Homo sapiens: one gene and its partners. The protein of the gene in region 1 interacts with the protein of each later gene in a pairwise test. Each region holds a gene or a part of one and is shown in the gene's direction. Other genes may lie near its edges.

Region 1 (7,872 bases):
TCCTGCCTCAGCCTCCCAAAGTGCTGGGATTACAGGCGTGAACCACCATGCCTGGCCAGCCTCAAAGTTTTTAAAACACGTAATTGCTATAGATGGCTTCAGGTATTGCAAGATTTATGGTACAGGCTCTAAACTTCCTTTGTTTAATCAGATTTGTCAGCCTTCAGTGATGTTGATGATGAGATGCTCCTGTTCCTGCCTCAGTCATTTCACTGTCAGAAATAGCTTAGACTGGCCACCCGAGGTGGCTCACACCTCTAATCCCAACAGTTTGGGATGCCAAGGTGGGCAGATCGCTTGAAGTCAGGAGTTTGAGACCAGTCTTGCCAGCATGGTGAAACCTCAAATCTACTAAATACAAGAATTTGGCCGGGCACGGTGGCTCAAGCCAGTTATCCCAGCACTTTGGGAGGCCGAGAGGGGCAGATCACCTGAGGTCAGGAGTTCAAGACCAGCCTGGCCAACATGTTGAAACCCCGTCTCTACTAAAAATACAAAAATTAGCTGAGCGTGGTGGCGCAAGGCTGTTATCCCAAGTACTTGAGAGGCCGAGGCAGGAGAATCACTAGAACCTGGGAGGTGGAGGTTGCAGTGAGCCAAGATTGCCCCACTACACTCCAGTCCAGGCAACAAAGTAAGACTCCGGGCTGAGGTGGGAAAATCATGCCACTACACTCCAGCATGGGTGATAGTATGTGACTCAGTCTCAAACACAAACAAAAAGAGAAATAGCTTAAACTGGGAGGCTTCAGACACAGAAATTTATTTCTCATGAATTTGGAAAGTGGGAAATCCAAGAGCAAGGTGCCAGCCAAATTGGTTCCTGGTGAGAGCATTCTTCATGGTTTAGCCCAGCCATCTTCCTGCCGTGTCCTGACATGGTGGAAACAGGAACAGGCAACGAGCTCTTTAATATCTCTTTTTATGAAAGCACAAGTCCTATTCACGAGTAGTCAACACCCATGACCAAATTGTCTCAAAGGCCCCATCTGCAGAACATCCTTTTGGAGAATAAGAACTCTGAACATGGCTTTTGGCCAATATGAACATTCAGACCAGGGAGGCTGCATCATATTGTTTGTGTTTTTATTGTATGATTTGATTTATAAAATGTTTTCACTGATCTCAGTTTAAAAATTTTCCCAGTACACATTCTATGTTTTATATTTTGTGCATAGTGAACTAGATAATTAATACCAACTATATATATATATATATATATATATATATATATATATATATATATATAAAATTGCTGTATTGCCTGGCTGTTTCATAAATGTAGTTGTGACATCATAATTGCACCCTCTGACACCGTTAGTCAATTTTTTTTTTTTTTTTTTTGGAGATGAAATCTCACTCTGTCACTCAGCTGGAGTGCACAGGTGCAATCTCGGCTCACTACAACCTCCACCTCCTGGGTTCAAATGATTCTCCTGCCTCAGCCTTCCAAGTAGCTGAGATTACAGGCAGCCACCACCATGCCCAGCTAATTTTTTTGTATTTTTAGTAGAGTGGGGATTTCACCATGTTGGCCAGGCTACTCTTGAACTCCTCACCTCATGATCTGCCCACCTCAGCCTCCCAAAGTGCTGGGATTACAGACCTGAGCCACCGTGTCCAGCCGTTAGTCAATTCTTATTCCTTATAATGCTGTGTATTTTTTTGACCTCATAAGTCAGAAGGTAGTGATCTTAACATGTATTTCAGTTCTTATATTGTCTGCTGGTGGCAAGTAGAAGTCGTGGCATTTTTCTTAACAGGGAATTGTTTAGAATTTTGCATGTTGTATAAATGTACTTATTATTTGCTTCCTGGTTTTATGGGTTACAATATTTTACTAATTAATTTTTATGATTGTACATGAGGCTTTTCGGTATGTGGTATGCAATATAACTGACACAGTCCACTAGTTAATGTCACACAGTGCCACCGGATGCTGTGGCTCACGCCTGCAATCCCAGGACTTTGGGAGGCTGAGGTGGCTGGATCACTTGAGGTCATAAGTTCGAGGCCAGCCTGGCCAACATGTTGAAACCCTATCTCTACTAAAAATACAAAAATTAGCCAAACGTGGTAGTGTGTGCGTGTAATCCCAGGTACTCAGGAGGCTGAGGCAGGAGAATGGCTTGAACCCAAAAGGTGGAGGTTGCAGTGAGCTGAGATCGGGCCATTGAACTCCAGGCGGTTGTGACAGAGTGAAACTTCATCTCAAAAATATAAAAATAAAAAATTTGTTTAAAAATGTCAAAATGTGCCTTTTCTGCAAGGATATAGGTAATTTTATGACAGTTATTCAGAAAAACATTGTATTAACATTTTTTTTCAAGATGGAATCTCACTTTGTCACCCAGGCTGAAGTACAGTGGTGCAATCTCAGCTCACTGCAACCTTTGCCTCTTGGGTTCAAACGATTCTTGTGCCTCGTGAGTCCCATGAGTACGTGGGACTAAAAATTTGGGACTAAAAAAGATTAAAAATTACATTTTGTAATCTTTTCTTATCTTCTCAGTGCTATGATTGTTTGACAATACAGAATTTCCATTGATTTTGGTTATCCTTACATAATCTTGTTGTGGATTATTTTCCAACACAGTACATCATGTGGTCCTTTAGCATCTATTTGTATACAGTAAATATGCTGTAAATGTGAAGAATATATACTTTTCATTGATGTGACAGTGATATGTTTTTTACAAACTGTTAGACACTTTAGGGTCACGATGGAAAAATATTCCTTACTTTAGGCTACACGTTTTTGTGCCCTGTCAGTGTTTTGTCACGATATTGGAAATAGACTTCCGTAAAAATAATTTGAAGCACATGTAATCGCCCTTTATTTGTTAAAGAATCTTATGCTTTTCTGTTCCTAAACTTTGAGGGTCATGTTTGCAAAGTTTAAAATAAGTATTGTTTTTTGTGTCATATTTACACATTTCAGCATTATTTACCATCTGTACTTAATTTGAAACCTTTTGGTGTGTATACTTTTTAGATATCTCTTCCAAATGCATGATGAAGGAGTTCTCGTCAACAGCACAAGGCAATAGAGAAGTGTTCCATGCAGGGACATCTCAAAGACATGAAAGTCATCACAATGGAGATTTTTGTTTCCAGGATATTGATAAAGATATTCATGACATTGAGTTTCAGTGGCAAGAAGATGAAAGAAATGGCCATGAAGCACTCATGACAAAAATCAAAAAGTTGACAGGTAGTACAGAGCGATATGATCAAAATTATGCTGGAAACAAGCCTGTTAAATATCAGCTTGGATTCAGCTTTCATTCGCATCTGCCTGAACTGCACATATTTCACACTGAAGAGAAAATTGATAATCAAGTTGTGAAGTCTATCCACGATGCTTCCTTGGTTTCAACAGCCCAAAGAATTTCTTGTAGGCCTGAAACCCATATTTCTAATGACTATGGGAATAATTTCCTGAATTCTTCATTATTCACACAAAAACAGGAAGTACATATGAGGGAAAAATCTTTCCAATGCAATGACAGTGGCAAAGCCTATAATTGTAGCTCACTCTTAAGGAAACATCAGTTAATCCATTTAGGAGAGAAACAATATAAATGCGATATATGTGGCAAGGTCTTTAATTCGAAGCGATACGTTGCACGCCATCGTAGATGTCACACTGGTGAGAAACCTTACAAGTGTAATGAGTGTGGCAAGACCTTCAGTCAGACATATTACCTAACATGCCATCGTAGACTTCATACTGGAGAGAAACCTTACAAATGTGAAGAATGTGACAAAGCTTTCCATTTCAAATCAAAGCTTCAAATACATAGGAGAATTCATACTGGAGAGAAACCGTACAAGTGTAATGAGTGTGGCAAGACCTTTAGTCAGAAGTCGTACCTTACATGCCATCGTAGGCTTCATACTGGAGAGAAACCTTACAAGTGTAATGAGTGTGGCAAGACCTTTAGTCGGAAGTCACATTTTACATGCCATCATAGAGTTCATACTGGAGAGAAACCTTACAAGTGTAATGAGTGTAGCAAGACCTTTAGTCACAAGTCATCTCTTACATACCATCGTAGACTTCATACTGAAGAGAAACCTTACAAGTGTAATGAGTGTGGCAAGACCTTCAATCAGCAGTTAACCCTTAACATTTGTAGACTTCATAGTGGAGAGAAACCTTACAAATGTGAAGAATGTGACAAAGCCTACAGTTTCAAATCAAACCTTGAAATACATCAGAAAATTCATACTGAAGAGAATCCTTACAAGTGTAATGAGTGTGGCAAGACCTTCAGCCGGACGTCATCCCTTACATACCATCATAGACTTCATACTGGACAGAAACCTTACAAATGTGAAGATTGTGATGAAGCTTTCAGTTTCAAATCAAACCTTGAAAGACATAGGAGAATTTATACTGGAGAGAAACTACACGTGTAATGAGTGTGGTAAGACCTTCAATCAGGAGTTAACCCTTACATGCCATCGTAGGCTTCATAGTGGAGAGAAACCTTACAAATATGAAGAACTTGACAAAGCTTACAATTTCAAATCAAACCTTGAAATACATCAGAAAATTCGTACTGAAGAGAATCTTACAAGTGTAATGAGTGTGGCAAGACCTTGAGTCATACGTCATCTTTTGTGTACCATCATAAACTTCATAGTGGAGAGACCTTACAAATGTGAAGAATGTGAAGAAGCTTTCTGTTTCAAATCCAACCTTGAAAGACATAGGAGAATTCACACTGGTGAGAAACCTTACAGGTGTAATGAGTGTGGCAAGACCTTCAGCCAGACCTCATCCCTTACATGCCATTGTAGACTTCGTACTGGAGAGAAACCTTACAAATGTGAAGAATTTGAGTTTTCCATTTCAAATCAAACCTTGAAAGACAAAGGAGAATTCATACTGGAGAGAAACCATACAAGTGTAATGAGTGTGGCAAGACCTTTAGTCAGAACTCATACCTTACACGCCATCGTAGACTTCATACTGGAGGATACCTTACAAATGTAATGAGTGTGGCAAGACCTTTAGTCAGAACTCATACCTTACATGCCATCATAGACTTCATACTGGAGAGATACCTTAAAAGTGTAGTGAGTGTGGCAAGACCTTTAGTCTGAAGTCATACCTTACGCACCATCGTAGACTTCATACTGGAGAGGTACCTTACAAGGATAATGAGTGTAGAAAAACCTTTCATGGGCAGTCAGCATTTTACAAATGTAATGATTGTCACCAAGTCTTGAGTAATGCTACAACTATTGCAAATCATTGGAGAATCCATAATGAAGAGAGATCCTACAAGTGTGATAAATGCAGAATAAATGCAGAAAATTTTTCAGACATCCTTCATACCTTTGCAGTTCATGGGTGAAGTCGTATTAGAAACCTTACAAATGTGAAGAATGTGATGAAGCTTTCAGATTCAAATCAAACCTTGATAGTCATAGAATTCATACTAGAGAGAAACCTTAGCAGTGTAATGAACGTGGCAAGGTTTTAAATCAAAAAGCAAAGCTTGCACATCATCATAGAATTCATACTGGAGATAAACGTTACAAATGTGAAGCATGTGACAAAGTTTACAGTCGCAAATCAAGCCTCCAAAGACAGGAGAATTCATACTGGAGAGAAAGCTTACATATGTGAAGAATGTCACCAAGTTTTCAGTCACACTCAAACCTTGAAAGACACAGGAGAATTCCTACTGGAGAGATAGCATAAAAATGTAAGAGTTTGTGACAAGGCTTTCAGGCATAATTCGCACCTGGCACAACATCCTAGAATTCACATTGGAGAGAAAGCTTACAAGTATAATGAATGTGACAGGTCTTTAGTGGGCAGTCAACACTTGTTTACCATCAGGCAATCCATGGTGTAGGGAAACTTTACTTATGTAATGATTGTCACAAAGTCTTCAGTTACACTACAACCATTGCGAATCATTGGAGAATCCATAATGAAGAGAGATCATACTAGTTTAATAAATTTGGCAAATTTTTCAGACATTGTTCATAACTTGCAGTTCATCGGCGAACTCGTACTGGAGAGAAACCTTACAAATGTCATGATTGTGACAAGGTCTCAGTCAAGCTTCATTCTATGCAAAACATAGGAGAATTCATACAGGAGAGAAACCTCACAAGTGTGATGATTGCGGCAAAGCCTTTAATTCACATTCACACCTCACTAGACATCAGAGAATGCATACTGGACAGAAATCTTATAAATGTCATCAGTGTGCCAAAGTCTTCAGTCTGAGCTCACTCCTTGCAGGATATCAGAAAATTCATTTTGGAGATAGTTGTTCCAAATACAATGTGTATAGCAAACCATCAAGCATTAATTGACACTAGAGTCAGTTCAGCATTGACTTGAGTTTGACTTAACATTGAGTTGAAGCCTTAATTGACATTAAAGTGTTTATGTTAAGAGGACTGGGCCAGGCACAGTGGCTCACACCTGTAATCTGAGCGCTTTGGGAGGCCAGCACCGGTAGATCACTTGAGTTCAGGAGTTTGAGGTCAGCCTGGCCAACAGACGTGAGCCATTTTCCCAGCCTGTTTTTTGTTTCTTTAACAAAAACTGATAGGGATTTTTTTTTTTTTTTTTGAGATGGAGTTTCACTCTTGTTGCCCAGGCTGGACTGCAATGGAGCGATCCCAGCTCACTACAACCTCCGCCTCCCAGGTTCAAGCAATTCTCCTGCCTCAGCCTCCAGAGTAGCTAGGATTACAGGCATGAGCCACCACGCCCAGCTAATTTTGTATTTTTAGTAGAGATGGGGTTTCTCCATGTTGGTTAGGCTGGTCTTGAACTCCCAGCCTCAGATGATCCACCCACCTCGGCCTCCCAAAGTGCTGGGATTACAGGCGTGAGCCACTGCGCCCAGCCCCAGTGATAAGGATTTTTATGGGTACCGTGTTGAATCTAAATCACATTGGGTTATATAATCATTTAACAATATTAATTTTTCCAAACCATAAGTATGGGTTGTAGCTCTATGTTTCTAATCATTTTGATCAATGTTTGTAGATTTCAAGGTAAAAACCTCTGACCTTTTTACGTTTATTTCTAAGTATTTCTTACTTTAAGTTCTCCAGCCAATGGAAGTGTTTTAAAATTTTCTTTTAAAGTTGTTTGTTGTTAAAAGTATGGAAATTCAACTAATTTTTGGTGCTGATACTGTATTGTGCAAATCCACTGAATATGTTACTTAGTTCCAGTAGTATTTTGGTTGACTCTTTGTGATTTTCTGCACAGAAGATCATGTCGTCTACAAACAAATATAATTTTACTTCTTTCTTTCTGATTTCGATGAGTTTGATTTCTTCTGCTATTTAATTGCTCTAGCTAGGACAGCCAGTATTGATTGAATAGAAGGGGTGAGAGCACTCTTGCATCATGTGAGATCCTCCAGGAAAGGCATTCCATTTTCCCTACTTGATTATTCACTCATTGGTCATTTCATGGATGGTCTTTCTATTGTTTAGGTAAATTTCCTTTCTATCTATTTTGTTTAGGATTTCTATGATGACTGGATTTTGAATTTTGTGAAATGCTTTTTCTCCCTCTATTAAGATGATGTGGTTTTCATCTTTCATTCTGTTCAAGTGGCATATCACATTGATTTGCTTGAATATGTTGAACCATCCTTGCATCCCAGAAATAAGTGGCACTTGAATATCTACAATCCTTTTTACATCCTCTTGAATACAGTTTTCTAGTACAAGGGATCTTGATGAAGTTCATGGAAAAATACATATTATGAGAAAATTGTGCATGAATTTCACAGTTTTTGCACCAAATTAAACTGGTACAAGTCTGTTATAACATGTCTGAACAGGCTGTAGTTGAAGGCACTCAGAAGGATAAGA
Region 2 (7,964 bases), on another chromosome or scaffold:
TGTTAAAATGGTCATCAACTCCCCAAGGTGCTGGCACCACCCAGCTGCATTCCAGGCAGTGCCTATTAATGTGCTAGGAATGGCGCTGGGTGATTGACAAGCGGGTCAGTCCAGACTGGCTGAAACCATCTTCAGGCACAGGGAAAGGAAAAGGGCCTAGAAAATGATCAATAAGAGCCACTGCGATGTGTTGGCTTACTTTGTGCTGGCACTGGCCAAGGCTACACCAGGTGTATAAACACACCACGCACATGGTTTACGATGATAATGCTGCAAGGGGGCCTGAAGAGGTGCCTGAGGGAGTGGCCAAGAGCACGGCTCTGAGCCACCCAGCCTGGGCTCAAGTCCTGGCTCTGCCACTTACCAGCTGGTGACCTTATCCTCTCTGTGCCTCAGTTTCCTCAGTTTCTGTAAAAATGGCAGGATAACAGTAGTACATAAATCTGAGAGCCATTGTGAGGACTAAATGAGTCCATACATGTAAGGCATTTAGAATTGTGCCTGGGCTGGGCACAGTGGCTCATGCCTATAATCCCAACACTTTGGGAGGCCAAGCCCAGAGGATTACTTGAGTCCAGGATTCGAGATCAGCCTGGGCAACATAGCGAGACCCCATCTCCACAAAAAATAAAACAATTAACTGGGCATCGTGGTGGCCACCTGCAGTCCCAGCTACTCAGGAGGCTGAGGCTGAAGCAGGAAGATCGCTTGAGCCCAGGAATTCGAGGCTGCAGTGAGCTATGATTGTGCTCCTACACTCCAGCCTGGGTGACAGAGTGAGACCCTGTCTCTAAAAAAGAAAAAATAAAAATAAAAAATTAAAATAAAAAAAATTGTGCTGGCACATAGTAAATACTCGGTGTTAATTTATCATCATAGTTCTCATTTTAAGATGAAGAAACTGAAGCTTACAGCAATTAAATAACCCGCCTGGGGTTGGCTGCTCTGAAGACCTTTGCCTTTGCTGCCCTGTTCCTGGAAGCCTCTCATGCCCATCTTCCCGTGGCTGCCCCCTCAGGTGACTCACAAGCTGCTCAGGGATGGCCTCCAGACCACTGACCCCTCCCCTGCCCCAATCACTGTGGACCCAGCACTCTGCCTTGATCTCTCCTTCGCACTTATCACATCTGAAATTATCTTGTTCATTCAGCAAATGAGCTAATACATATAGAGCACTATTATTATTATATGTTTGCTTGGTTGCTGTCTGTCCTCATAGGGGCAGGGCCCTCACCTGTCTTGTCTACCACATGACAGGAACTCAGAGCCAGCTTCATGGGTGTGTGGCCTGCACAGTCGCCCAGGGCCCTGCACTCAGAAGGGGCTACATTTGCTTTAATGCTCTGCTGTTATTGTCTTGAAATTCTTAACAATTTTTTTAGAGACAAGGTCTCACTCTGTCACCCAGGCTAGAGTGCAGTGGTGTAATCACAGCTCACTACAGCCTCTGACTCCTAGGTTCAAAGCAGTCAAGCCATCCTCCCACACAGCTAAGACTATAGGTGTGCACCACCACATTCAGCTAATTTTTTAAATTTTTGGGGAGATGCGGGTCTCGCTATGTGGCCCAGGCTGGTCTCGAACTCCTGGGCTCAAGTGATCCTCCCGCCTCCAAGTAGCTGTGATTATAGGCACAAGCCACCACGCCCGGCCTTAACAATTTTTTAACAAAGGGCTTTACATTTTCATTTTGCACTGGGCCCCAGAAAATTATACTGATAGAGTGATCAGGGCTATAGATCAGTGAGTAAGTGAATGAATGAATGAATGAATGAATGAATGAATGAGCAAGCCTACATTCCAAACAGGTCTCTCAGACTCCATAACCCTACTACTTAACTACCATGCCAAACAACCTCCATATGGAGGAAGAGAGGTGGGCAGGGCAGTCAGAACCAGGGACAACCACAGCCTGACGGAGAAGCTAGGGTACAGGGGAAGGGAGCACCTTAGGAGGAAGCATCTGTTTGCGCTTCCTCTGGAGCCCAGCATTCTTCTCAACCTCTCATTGTCCTTGTACCTCAAGCAGCATGAAAACCATTTGCTGCCACCTAATGTTACTTTTTGGTTGCCTAAGACAGAGGGACCTTGGCTCTGCCTCCTGGGACAGATGTGGACCAGTCAGGTGCTCTTCAAAGCCACGGCTATGACAGCGCCTCGGGGCACCCAGCACAGCCCTAGGTGCCTGGACCTTGGTAAGTAAATAGATACAATCCTTGCCCTTTGTGCCTTAGGGGTGTCATCAAAACTACATGGCTATGAGGTGAGGATGGAGCAAGGAGGGACTGCTGGGCTGGGAACCTGGTGGGGTTAATCAGGGGAGCTTTCTGGAGAAGGTGCCCTTGGGCGCCTCATTTTCCACTCCCCCTGAACTCTCCTTACCTCAGCGGGCATCACACATTCTGGTCCCCAGAGGTTTTCCTTTAATGGTCTTGACTCCTAACATCTTCGGAACAGTTAAAGCCATTCCAGTTAAAATCACCCATTGATCTTTCCTCAAATTAAACTCCTCCCTCTCTTTCCCATTGCCACCCCAGGCCTGCCTCTGGCTGTTCTTGGAGCCATCCTTGATCTTCTCCCACTCTCCCCTGAACAGCAGACATCTGTTTCTCCAAACTCTCTAGCATTGTCTAACACTTCAGTTAAAGCTCTCGTCATCTGTAACTTTGTGTCCTGGTTATGTACACATTCCCAGACTTGGCCATCAACTTCTTGAAGGCAGGACTCTCCTAGATTCACCTTTAAAATGTAGGTAAGGCAAGAAGGAAAAGGTTTGGAGGAAGCAAAGTTTTGTACACATTGGATGGTCTTGGCTAAATACAGGATAGTGGAGATATACGGGGGGCTGAGGCTTTCTTATGAAAAATGCAGATGGTGGGACAGTCTTTTGAGAACAAAAATTAGTCCACATGGTGATGTAGCTAGAGACATATAAGAGAAGACTTGATAAAACAAACACATTTTAATGGGAGAAAATATTCTGAAATCACATAGCTGTGAAGGGAGTAATATCTGGAATATACAGAGAACTCCTAAAACTCAATAACAACAACAACAAAAAAAAAACCCGATTAAAAACAGGTAAAGGACTTGAATAGATATTTCTCTGAAGATATACAAATGGCTGATAAGCACATAAAAAGATACTCAATATCACTAATCATTAGACAAATGCAAGTCAAAGCTACATTGAGATACAGCCCTCACCCATTATGATGGTTACTATCAAAAAACCAGAAAATAACAAATGTTGGTAAGGATGTGGAGAAATTGGAACCCTTGTGCACCGGTGGTGGGAGTGCAAAATGGTGCAGCTGCTGTGGAAGACAGTATGGCAGTTCCTCAAAAAACTTAAAATAGAATTACCATATGATCCAGCAATTCCGCTTCTGGGTATATACCAAAAGAATTGAAAGCAAGGTCTTGAGATGTCTGTACATCCATGTTCATAGCAGCATTATTCACAAGAGCTAAAACATGGAGGCAACCTAAGTGTCTATCAATGGATGTGTAAACAAAATGTGGTATATACATGCAACGGAATATTACTCAGCCTTAAAAAGGAAGGAAATTCTGACATATGCTACAAAATGAATGAACCTTGAAGTGAAAATATTATGCTAAGCAAAATAAGCCAGTTGCAAAAATACTGCAGGATTCCACTTACATGAGGTACCTAGAGTAGTCAAAATCATACAGACAAAATAGAATGGTCGTTGCCAGGGGCTGGGGGGAGAGGGGGAAATGGGGATTTATTGTTTAATGAGTATGGAGTTTCAGTTTTACAAGAGTTACGGAGATGGTGCGATGGCTGCACAACATTATTCAGTGCTATTTCATACCCATGAACTGTACACTTAAAAATGGCTGGCTGGGCACCGTGGCTCACGCCTGTAATCCCAGCATTTTGGGAGGCCGAGGCAGGTGGATCGCCTGAGGTCAGGAGTTCGAGATCAGCCTGGCCAACATGGTAAAACCCTGTCCCTACTAAAAATACAAAACATAGCCAGGCATGATGGCGGGCGCCTGTAGTCCCAGCTACTTGGGAGGCTGAGGCAGGAGAATCACTTGAACCCGGGAGGCGGAGGTTGCGCCATTCACTGAACACCAGCCTGGGCGACAGAGCCACAGAGCAAGACTCCATCTCAAAATAAATAAATAAATAAATAAAAGGTTAAGGCCAGGTGTGGTGGCTCACACCTGTAATCCCAGCACTTTGGGAGGCCAAGGTGGGAGGATCACTTGAGCCCAGGAGTTTGAGACCAGCATGGGCCACATAGCAAGACCTTGTCTAAAAAAAATGGTTAAGATAGTAAATTTTGTTATGTGTATTTTACCACAATACAAAATAATAAATTGTAAAGAAAAAAAAAGTTTTTCTAGTCTGAATCAACACAGTTGGCATTGCTCATGCTAGAAAACCTGCGCCTCCCAGAGAAAAATGTCTGGCTTATGAGGGGTAGGAAGGGGGGAACAGAAGGGATACTAACAGGGACTGGGCAGAGAAGAACAAGAACTAGGAAGCACTAAAGAAGGAATTGAGGCCGAGTACCAAGGGATAGTGACAGGTACGGGGGCACCCACGAACAACGTTCAAACATATTTTCATCCAGTAACCTGTATTTACATGCAAATATATTGGTTTATGCAAAACAGCGGAGGCCTCGGGGGAGGGTTTTTTAGTCTCAAGCTTGTGCAGTCATTGAAAAAGAGACGCAAAGCTGTCTCTGGGGTACTCCACGTCCGCCTTGCCCCTGGGAGCTGGGCCGGTTCCAGGAGGACGAAGACTGAATTAGCTCGGCTTGCAGAGAAAGGCGAGCAGCGCCCCTACACGGAGAGTAGCGGTGCGCCTACAAAGTCGCGCATGCCCACTCCGGCCTCCCGCTCCACTCCTAAGGCAGGCGGCGAGGCTTAGTGCGCAAGCGCCATTCGTCGGCGCCGACTCCTCCCGCTAAGGCGGGAACACGCGGGGCCCAAGATGGCGGCCAGCCGGTACCGGCGTTTTCTTAAGCTCTGTGAGGAATGGCCAGTGGACGAGACCAAACGGGGCCGGGACTTGGGCGCTTACCTGCGACAGCGGGTAGCACAGGCCTTTCGGGAGGGAGAGAATACCCAGGTGACCGGCGGGGAGGCGGCTGGGACGAGGGGAGGAAAGGACGAGGCAGGGGCGGGGCCAACGAGCGCGCTAGCAGGGGGATCTGCGCATGCGCGCGCCCTCTTTCCAGGCAGCACGTGAGCGCGGACCCCCTTTTTCCCCCAGGGAGCTACTGATAGCGACGCCCGTTGTATTCAGCGCTCTCCCCCGGCTGCACCTTGGAATTGCCGAAGAAGCTTTTTTTAAACTCCAGATGGGCCGGGTGCGGCGGTTCACACCTATAATTCCAGCACTCTTTGAGAGGCCGAGGCGGGAGGATCGCTTGAGCCCAGGATGACCTCCTGGGCAACATAGTGGGACTCCGTCTCTACAAATCAAAAAACAAACAAAAACTTCAAATGCAGAATCTCTAGGGGTGGGGTCTTGACCTCAGAGTTTTAAAAGCTCTCCAGGTGATTCAAGGTGCAGAGAGAGTTGAGACCCACACCACCAGTGGCAGCTGGTGACAGCCTCAGCTTTTTGCTTCCTTGTCACGGTAGCATTACCTCATTATTTCGCAGTGTTGTGTATTGACTGAGCTAATCCCCAGTTAACTCTGCAGGTCCCCGCTAAGCGTTTGCGTTCTTCCTGAGCCCCTGTAAGCCTGTGCAGCAGGTTTGGGTCCTCAGCTCACGCAGCTGTGTGTGAGTAGTAGGCCTATGTTCTTGCTTTCCTCCAGGTTGGCGCTGCAGCTCTGGGATTCATTCATTCATATAGCTCGTATTTATTGAGCACCTACCATATGCCTGGAACGGTGCTAGGGAAACAGCAGTGTTAAACAGGTGAAGTCCTGCCCGCATGAAGTTTTACATTGTAGTTCAGGACACAATAAGCAGGTAAGTGTACGTAAGACAGATAAGTACTGTGATCGATAGAAAATAGGGTAGCGTGATAAAAGGGTAATGTTATTAGTGGGGCCTTTCTGAGGAGATGACACATAGGTGAGACCTAAGGCAAGAGGATGAGCCAGCCATGTACACTTGGCGGGAAGGACATTCCAGACACTGCACATGTCCAGAGGCAGGAGGCAGATTGACATGTTTGAGGACAGAAAGAAAGCCAGAATGGCTGCAGGGTAGTAAGTAAGGTGGAGTTTGCTAAGGTGAAGGTCCGGAGCCAGGCACAGTAGGATATTATCTGTTCTGATTAGCTTTAGACCTCATTATAAGGCCAGTGAGAAGTCACTGGGGATGTTTAGTGAGGGGACTGATGTGCCCTAATTTACTTTTTAAAAGACTATTCTGGTTGTATGTGGTGAGTGGGCTATAGGGGGCAATAACAAAAAAAGAGGCTGGAGAGAAGCCGATTATGGTACTATAAGCGACAGATGGTGGGGGGTTGGATGAGGACGGCAGCACAGAAGATGGAAGTGGTTGGATTCAGGTTATGCGCAGGTTGAGTCAGCAGGACTTGCTGATATATGGGATGTGGGATAAAGGAAAAGAGAGGAACCAAAGATAGCACCTAGATATTTTTTGGCCTGGGCATCTAGGTCTAAGATGGTGCCATTTACTGAGGTAGGAATAGGTGAAGTGTAGGAAGAATATCTCGAGTTCGGTGTTAAGCAGGTTAAACCTGAGATGCCAAGTACACTGATTTCCAAGTGGCAATGTCAAGTAGGCAGTGCTATATTTGAGCCTGGGGCTCGGGCAAGAGACCAGAAATGAAATGAGATAATGAGATGCATATACACACAGTCTGAAGAAATGACTTGTGAAACTTGGCCAAGACTTGTTACAGAAGGAACATGGGTTTTTTTTTTTTCAGCTTAGCCCGAAACAGAGCCAAGCCAGCCCACCTAAAGGAGCAGGAGCACGCCCAGTGGCATCATTGTGACTGTACTGCTGATTGGCTGGCAGCCTGGGGAGTGTCTGGCCCAGGTTATACGATACCCAGGGCCCTCACATTATTCATGGTGGTCTTCACTGGCCCAAAGTGTAAAGATCTTTAAGGCAAGAATCTTATCTAGTCCCAATTCTACAAACCCGTGAACTTTCTAAAGCTGTACTCCCTGCATATTTTTAGTATGAGCTTCCTGAAAATAGAGATGATGCCATTTTTATCTTTCCCTCTCTCCCCTACGAGTGTCTAGCTAGTTCTTGGCCCATAAAAAAACACTCAGTAAATGTCTGAATGGATAAGTAAATAATTGGTTGTGGCTCATGAGACAAAGATAATTTGAATATAGTTTCAGATGTAGCAGAACTAGATGAAGAGAAGTTGTGAAGAGTGAGAAAGGAATATTTGTGTGTCCTGAGTGGTGAGAATTGATTTGAGAGCTTACCATGTTTGGGAAATTGCAGGATCTATGGAGGAAGGCCATAACCTGGCCTTCACCACTGAGGAGCTTACAGTTGAGCAGTCAGCGGCTCCATCCTTGGGGAGGTGAGAGAGCGTAACATTCACTTGCTTGATTGTTAGTGTAAGAGGAGCCAGCAAAGGAGGAAAGAGTTTTCTCTTTCGGAGTTGTCATCACCTAGGGCAATCGTTTCTGATCAGTCAAAGGCCCACACAGGTTTGAGTCCCAGCTGCAGATGCAACTCATGGCTGTGTTAGTGATTCTGTAGCAGCTGATGAATGCATTCCTGGTAGAGTGAACCAGTGCACAATGGCAGCAGGTGCATTACTCAGGACCACTGTTGCGGTACCTCATCCTAATGTCACCTGAGAATGCACCTGGCCTTAGTAAATCTTTGTGGTAATTTTTGAAGGGCGCAATTCCTTGCTGGAATTGAAAACACTATTGTGAGTCACTCCTACTGACACCCCCAGATCATTTATAAAGACCTTGAGAAAGCAAGATGATTCTGGTAGGCTCTTCATTAAACTG
Region 3 (7,776 bases), on another chromosome or scaffold:
TAGACTGAGAAGTCTTTGAAGGTGAATCATTCTTTAAGAGATTCTATAACTAAGCCTGCACTTTAAAATATTGTTCATACATCTTCCAAAAACTAAAAAGGAGAAATTAAATGCATTACCTAGTTGAGACAGCAAACCGATAATACTTAAGATCAGTGAAGCACTTATGTTGGGGTCTTCAAGTAGCTCTACAAGGCAACTCAAGCATTCACTTGTTAATATCTGATTTGATGTAAATAGTCGTGTGAGTTTCTGTCCAGAAATTACCTATAAAATAGTAATCAAAATGTGTTGGTTAAGCGATGGCAATTTTCATCTCTTCTCCATTTCAAATAAAAAACTCAGTTCCCTCAAAGTGCCACTGCTACCTTCCCAATTTAAAAAATTCACACATGCTGTGAAAAATTCACCCCTGCCTAGAGTACCCATCAATTACCTAATCCCTCCCTCCCTAGCTAAAGTAATCATTTGGATCTCAGTTTAAAATAATTTCCACCAGGAAGCTTTTCTTAGTTTCTTATACCATCTCAGTTCGGTCGGCCTATTATGCTATCCTATAGTACATTATATTTCTATTTCCTAAGTTAGCAAACTTTTGAGTTCCTAGCAATATTTCTCCTTCACACTACATTGAACATGCGATGAAGGCATAGCCTACAAATCTGCACTCTAGTACCAATATATTTACTATGCAAATAAATTCTAATACATTCTACTTACTTTGAGGGAGGAGAATGAAAAATGAAGCCCAGAGGGTAGTTATGGGATTATTCCTTCTGCTTCTTCCCAAAGACAATAGGTGAGCTCAGAAGTTAAGGGATTAAAGAAGGAAGTGAAAAGTGAATCTTTTTTTAAGTAGCCAGGCAAGGCATTGAAAAATTTTATTTCTGATTATTCCATTGTTTTTTTTACTTTCTTGTAATCTATAAGCCACATACACGCATGCACAGACACATACATACACACACACACACACAGAGTGAAAGAGAGAAGAGAGGAGGTAAAGCTGGAACTAAAGGCCAAAAGCAGTTGTCTCAAAGCATGAATTTTCAACATACTTTATGGATGTATTTATTACAAAGCATATCTTTTCTACAAAGATGGCAAAACCATTAGTTACCTTAGAATAAGACTAACTCTGTCCTGAATACTTATTTTAATAAGATCAAGCCTAAGCAGGCTGCTTTAGCATCCCTCTAATCTTTCCTTTCTGTATCCTCCCTTTATTCTCTCACCCACATCAGTTTTTCTTCTAAGGCTTTGCTGATAAGAGTTTCACATTATCTGTTCCCAAGGAGTGTTTTAACATTACTAAAGTAAAAGTCTATACAAGAAAAAATAAGTCCAAATATGAAAGTGCAGATGCCAGTAACAGATATTCTGGGGTAGGAAATACTGTGGGCATTACCCTGTTGCTTATTTATAAATCTAGCTCTCCAGAATAAGACACTTGCTGTTTTAAAAATGATTCTCTATAGGATTGGTCCTGTATCTCATTAACATAAATTGTCTAACATGTAATAATTATATGCACTAGGTAAAATAAAAATTGCTTTACAAGTTTTCCCTTTACTTATACTGAATCTCTTAAAACAAAGATAATTTATTTTAATAATAACTAATACTTATACAGCACTTACTCTGGCCTAGGCATCGATCTAGGCACTTTACATATGTGAACTCTTTTCATCTTCATAATAACTCTATAAGGTAGGTACCACTATTTTGTTTTGCAGATGAGTAAACTGAGGTACACACTGATAGTAAAGAAGCACAACTGGAATTCATATCTAGGCAGCTTGGTTCCTGAATTCATGCTTTTAATCACTACACAAAATTAGTGTTATGAAACATCATCATTAAAAATCAGATTAGCTCAGCTTTGCCAGTCATCAAACATTCAAAGCCTACACTCTGCATGGGGCTATAAAAGTGTGGGAGAAGTACAGAAGAATGAATAATCTCCTTTCACATGATACCCATCTCTCTTTGCATACTCAGATCTCGCTCTCATGAAGTCTGTACAAAGACATTCACCATTAAAAATACAAATACTGTCAACCAAAATGGTTAAAATTAAGAAATATGAAAACATCAAGGGTTGGTGTGGATAAGTGATGGTAAATTTCACATATTGCTAGTGGGAAGATAAAATGGCATATTTCAGAAAATTGTTTGGCAGTTTCAACTAAAACGGAACATATAGGCATATGTTCCAATGCTCTAACAATTCTACTCCTAAGTATATAAATGTGTGCATATATCCACAAAAAATGTATGTCTACAACAGCTTTATTCTTAATTCCACCCAGAAATGTAAACAACCCAAATGCCTATCAACAGGAAAGTGTATGTAAACTGTGGTACACTTATACAATAGAATTCTACACATCAATAATAAAAAAAATGAAGTAGCGGTACATGTGCAACATGAATTTCACAGATTTTATTGAGTGGAAAAGGCCAGACACAAGAGTACATATTGTATGAGTCTACTTACCCAAACCTTATGTGAAGAGGCAATGAAGAAACCCTATGGGGCTAGAAATGTTCTGTATCATGATACAGGTGGTAGCTACTCTACCTATATGTTAGCTACCAATATGGTAGCTATGGTACCTATATATTAAAAACTATCAAACTCTTCACTTAAGATTAATGCACTTTATGCTCTGTATGTATTTTATCTCTTAATTACAAAAAGTCCTTTTTAGTAGTAACCTGAAGCCAGTGCTCTTCATACCTTTGCAACAACGGTAGAAGAGTTTTATGTAAACCCCTTGAAAGTTTAGGAATACAGTAAAGACCCCATCCCATATTTTGTTTAAGTCTCTCTTTTTTTTTGTTTTGTTTTTGAGACGGAGTCTCACTCTGTCACCCATGTTGGAGTGCAGTGGAGCGATCTCTACTTATGCAACCTCAGCCTCCCGAGTTCAAGCGATTCTCCAGCCTCAGCCTCCCGAGTAGCTGGGACAACAGAGAGACGCCACGCCCAGGTAATTTTTGTATTTTTAGTAGAGACGGGGTTTCGCATGTTGGTCAGGCTGGTCTCAAACTCCCGACCTCAGGTGATCCGCTCGCCTCGGCCTCCCAAAGTGCTGGGATTACAGGTGTAAGCCCCTGTGCCTTAAATCTCTTTCAGTGCACAACCTTCCTGTTTATTCAAAGAAAGGTAATGCTTCAGAATAGCATACAAAATGCTTAACTCCCGATTTTTAAATTAAACGGACTGCCCTGCTTATTCTGCGGCTTCTGGAGCCTATGCTAATTCAGAAGCAAAGCCTTAAGCATTTAACAGCTAACACCTTAATTATTAGGTTTGCAGGCACTTCTTAAAATAAAGAATGAAAAAGAGAAAACAAATGTACTTAGGAGATGGGCACTTGAAGTAGGGAAAAGAGGAGCACCAGTGAAGCTCAAGATAAGACAGACACATTTAATACAACAGCAGCTTCACTAACAGCTGCTGTTGCTCTACTACTGGAAATCATTTTTTTCCTGTAATATTTTACAAATTTTTGGCACATTAGTCTTTTATCATAGGGTTAATATAATACAATATATTTTAAAATTATGTTCAATTCTACCTTAACAGAGGAAAGCTGTGACACAGAGAGTTAAAATAAGCCTTAATTGAGCTTTAAAAAAATTAAACTGAGGTCAATGTTAGTTTGAATTCCGTAAATGCAAAACAAATGAAAGCAGAAGATTAAGATCCTAAAACAAACGGAATCGTCTGGACACATATCACTAGAATAGAAAAAAAGGCAATTCAGCATTCTAAGATTAAAAAACTGTAAGCAATGTATTTTGGTAAAGAAAAAGGATTACGCTTACTAGGAAGGGGAAGTGCTTCTTAATGTTGAAATAATGTTTTTCAAGTTTGAGTTCAACCCGAGTTCAAGTAAGAGCAGTAAGCAACAAATTCAATTATAGATTACCGAAGGGCAAAACCAAGTTTTAATCATGACTTTCCGTCACTGAGAATAGTTGTGTATTGAGGGCTTGGTTTCGTAGAAAAACCAAAACTAGAAGCAAAGGAAAAGATAAAGTTCCGAGCTTTTTCCGTTACCTACTCGAAACAACCTGAACTTCCCAACCTTTTGCCCCACTCCCGCTTTTCCTAGAGCCTTCAGTGAGCGCTCTTGCCTCTCGCTGCGGCCAGCGGAACCCCGACACTCACTAGCCTTTACCAGTACGAAAAGACAACAGAGGGATCGAAGGACTGTCCTTTCTTTCCCAGGCTGGGGCCGCCACTCCTCGGCCTCACTGTGAAATAAGAATTGCTAGGGGAAGCCCCATCTGTCCTCTACCCCAGAGCCTCTCACCTCCAAGTGCCGCAAAAGCTGAGTGGCGTTCGCCTCTGACTTCACGGCTTTGTACTGACTGACAGTCAGGAGCAAGGACTTCAAGCAGGCAGTGGAGTCCATTGCACCGGCCGCGGCCCGGCTTAGGGACCACCACCGCCCAGCGTGCGCCGGCCTTTAGCTTTCGCCGCGCTTTTTTTGATTTTCGGCCCCACCCCCTCGCTCTCAGAAGCTTCCGGATCCGGTCGGGCTCCGGAAGTCCCTAGGCACCCTAGGGGACCGTTCTCGGTGACGGCCGGGGTGGGCCAGGGGTCGAGGTGATTTGTGGGTCCAGGACGGGGGTTGGGAGCTGCCCCCGCTAACCCACCCTCGTCTGAGAGGCCGCGAGGTTTCGGCCTGAGATCCCGTGAAGGCGAGAAATCTCGCGATTTCTCGGGAGAGGAATCGGTTAGGAGAAGGGGGATTCCTCACTCAGCTGTGCGCTCTGATTTCGTGCGCTTCCTCGTCCTTCATGTTGGATGGCCAGTTTTTCGTTTGTGCGTCATCCTCTACCTGAGAAATGGTCGCTTGCCCCTAGTCTAGACACGGTGAGGAGCTCTGAGGAGAAGAATCTTGGGCCCTAGATTTTGAGGCGGCCTGGGAGGGGCCTCGTTTTTAAATCTCTCCTACACCCGCCCCTTCTGCCCGGGGATGGTAGTTTCTCAGAGTCAACCTATTGGCATTATGTGGCAAATTAGTCATGCCCTGACCAAAGTATTTGTCACATTTATTCGAGAAGACTACCTCCTGCTGACCCTGGGCCAGGTATTGCTCCGGAGGGTGTTACTCGTTAGCGTCAGTTTTTGTAAGTGAAGGTGTCTGTTTCTCTCTGGCATGATTGATTGTTTTATAATTCTCGATGTCTACGAAAATGGCACTATTATTTGCGTTTTTTAAATCGGAGATAGCTTAATATTATTGCATGTGTATGTAATGAAGCGAGTCAGTTACTGGTTTTGGAGCTTTTTGCTTAATATTTCCTAACGTCGAATAAAGCTTTAAAAACCAGGATGTAGAAATTGTAAGAATAGGGTACATTTCCATTTAATTAAATCGTTTATCAGAAATCATGTTTTTTCACTTCAAAAGAATTTTTTTGAATTACTAGATTTTTGAAGACAGGTTTGGTGTTTTGGTTTTGTTTTTTATAAAAGTTTAAATCTGAAAGATAAAAATGATTTAACCAGTTGGGACATTCATGTAAAAATCTTTGGGTAGCTTGTGTGTTCATTTATGCTTTCATTCATTCCGTAAACAATTATAGAGCGTGTAACATGGGTTAGAAACTGCCAGTCAGGGAACAGAGATGAAGTAGTATCCCCTGCTGCGAGGGAACTGTCTAGTAAGGGAAACATACAAAATAGTACTTTTGAAATTCACCACATAAATGAGAGGCACCATGCAGTAACATGCAGCAGTGGTAAAGAGTAGAGAGCCAGGTTGCTTACAGATTCTAGCTCCACCTTTGACGATGTGACTCTAGGCAAGTTCTCACTGCTGCAGAATCTTCATTAGGTAAAATCTGGCCAAGGGAGATACCTGGTTCATAGGACTGTTCATTCAATAAGTAGTTCATTGAGAATCTACAATGTGCTAAGCACTTTTCTAGACACAATAGACTCAGTGAAAAAAACAAAAATACTACTGGCATGCAACTTACATTTTGGTAGGGAACCAAATAATAAACACAATAAATAAGTAAGGAAAATGATATAAAGAGAAAAATAGACGTTATTACTCTAGAATAATGTTGGTAATTGATAAGGGAAATGGGAAGGTGACCTCATTAAGAAAGCAACATTTGGGGAAATGCTTCAAGGAGTTGAGAAAGGGAGCCATATTCTATGGGAAAAGGTTTTTAGATAGAGGAAATGGCAAAGAAAGACCCTAAAGTGGGATACTGTATGCCAGAAACAAGGATGCCATGTGGCTAGTGTAGAAAGAACGAGGAGGAGAGGAGTAGAGATGAGGTCCTATACGGTCTTGGAGATGGTTAAAAAATGAATTAATGTAAAGTGTCAGCTGTCATCTGGCATAATTAAGTTCTCAGTGTTACAGTCAGTGCCTCATTGGCAAATGAAGTGATCAGAGTTTGATAGTGTTGGACTTTTCATCTGTGATGATGTGTCAGCATCGTCCCCATTCAGAGGCCCAGGGTAATGCGCAAAGCTGCGTGCTATCAGTGCCATCTTTGTTGGATTTTGACTTAAGCAGTCATACAAATTTTGTATTCTCTTCTGTAATTAATATCAAATGTCTTTCTCAAAAAATCTTCACCAAAATTGATGTTGTAAGTTTAGTAAGAGGGATCGTTTCTAGCTGTGATAAGTCTTGACATTTTTAATCAGAGATACTTGCATATCCTAATTTGAGAAACACCAATCCATACTTTTAGGCCTCAAAAAGGGAAGAAAAGGAGCAGGAGGCCAGGAGCAGTGGCTCACGCTTTTAATTTCCAGTTTTTTGGGAGACTAAGGCAGGAGGACCTTGAACCCAGGAGTTGGAGCCAGCCTAGGCAACATAGTGAAACGCCATCTCTACAAAAAATGAAAAAATTAGCCGGGCATGGGTGTGCTCACTTGTAGTCCTAGCTACTCTGGAGGCTGAGTTGGGGGGATCACTTGAGGCTGCAGTGAGTGTGATTGTGCCACTGCACTGTAGCCTGGGTGGCAGAGTGAGACCCTGTCAAAAAAAAAAAAAAAAAAAGAGATGAGTCTGGGTCCCAATGACCAAAGGCCTTATTAGCCTTAAACTTGGACTCCATCTTGAAGTCCGTGGCAATCTCTGGTTTTAAACTGGCACCTGGTCTAGTCAGGTTTGTTTTTAGATTGATTACTCTGGTAGCTGAATGAACTATGATTTTGGGGAGGATAAGACTGGAAAGAGGGACACTAATTTTCTGGAACCTTCTAAAGGATAACCAGGATAATTGAGGTGGAGATACAAAATAGGTGACAAATTCGAGAAGTATATATGAAGTAAAATAGGTAGGATTTGGTGACTGATAGTGGATGTGAGGCATGAAGAGAGGGATGAGTCTAGCAGATACTAAGTTTTTAGGTTGGATGAATGAGAAGATACAGATACTGCTGAGTTAGTTAATAGAAAGTATTAAGGGTGTGCCAGGCGTAGTGGCTCATGCCTTTTATTCCAGCACTTTGGGAGGCTGAGGCAGGAGGATCTCTTGAACCCAGGAGTTCAAGACCAGCTTGGGCAATATGGTGAAACCCCACCTCTACTAAAAATACAGAAAATTAGATGGGTGTGGGTGGTGCATGCCTGTAGTCCCAGCTACTCAGGAGGCTGTCATGGGAGGAACACCTGAACCTGGGAAGTCAAGGCTGCAGTAAGCCATGTTTGCCCCACTGCACTCCAGCCTGGGCAATGTGGGCAACAGGAGGGAGACCCTGTCTCAAAAAAAAAAAAAAAA

The links.
Region 2: the proteins of ZNF765 (region 1) and UQCC2 interact in binary tests that used the Homo sapiens proteins (3 or more experiments, as listed by UniProt).
Region 3: the proteins of ZNF765 (region 1) and DZIP3 interact in binary tests that used the Homo sapiens proteins (3 or more experiments, as listed by UniProt).

The regions. Positions count from the first base shown.
Region 1 is NC_000019.10:53,404,703-53,412,574, forward strand, and holds the end of ZNF765 (zinc finger protein 765), read left to right. Parts: intron 1-2,995; coding exon 2,996-4,425; 3' UTR 4,426-7,307; downstream 7,308-7,872. UniProt on the Homo sapiens protein: May be involved in transcriptional regulation.
Region 2 is NC_000006.12:33,708,701-33,716,664, reverse strand, and holds the start of UQCC2 (ubiquinol-cytochrome c reductase complex assembly factor 2), read left to right. Parts: upstream 1-4,964; 5' UTR 4,965-4,978; coding exon 4,979-5,116; intron 5,117-5,215; exon of another isoform or gene 5,216-5,357; intron 5,358-5,417; exon of another isoform or gene 5,418-5,630; intron 5,631-5,813; exon of another isoform or gene 5,814-5,970; intron 5,971-6,901; exon of another isoform or gene 6,902-7,086; intron 7,087-7,964.
Region 3 is NC_000003.12:108,584,946-108,592,721, forward strand, and holds the start of DZIP3 (E3 ubiquitin-protein ligase DZIP3), read left to right. Parts: upstream 1-4,776; 5' UTR 4,777-4,894; exon of another isoform or gene 4,895-5,151; intron 5,152-7,776. Other genes in the region: protein CIP2A, read right to left, coding at 120-267, 4,329-4,430. UniProt on the Homo sapiens protein: E3 Ubiquitin ligase proteins mediate ubiquitination and subsequent proteasomal degradation of target proteins.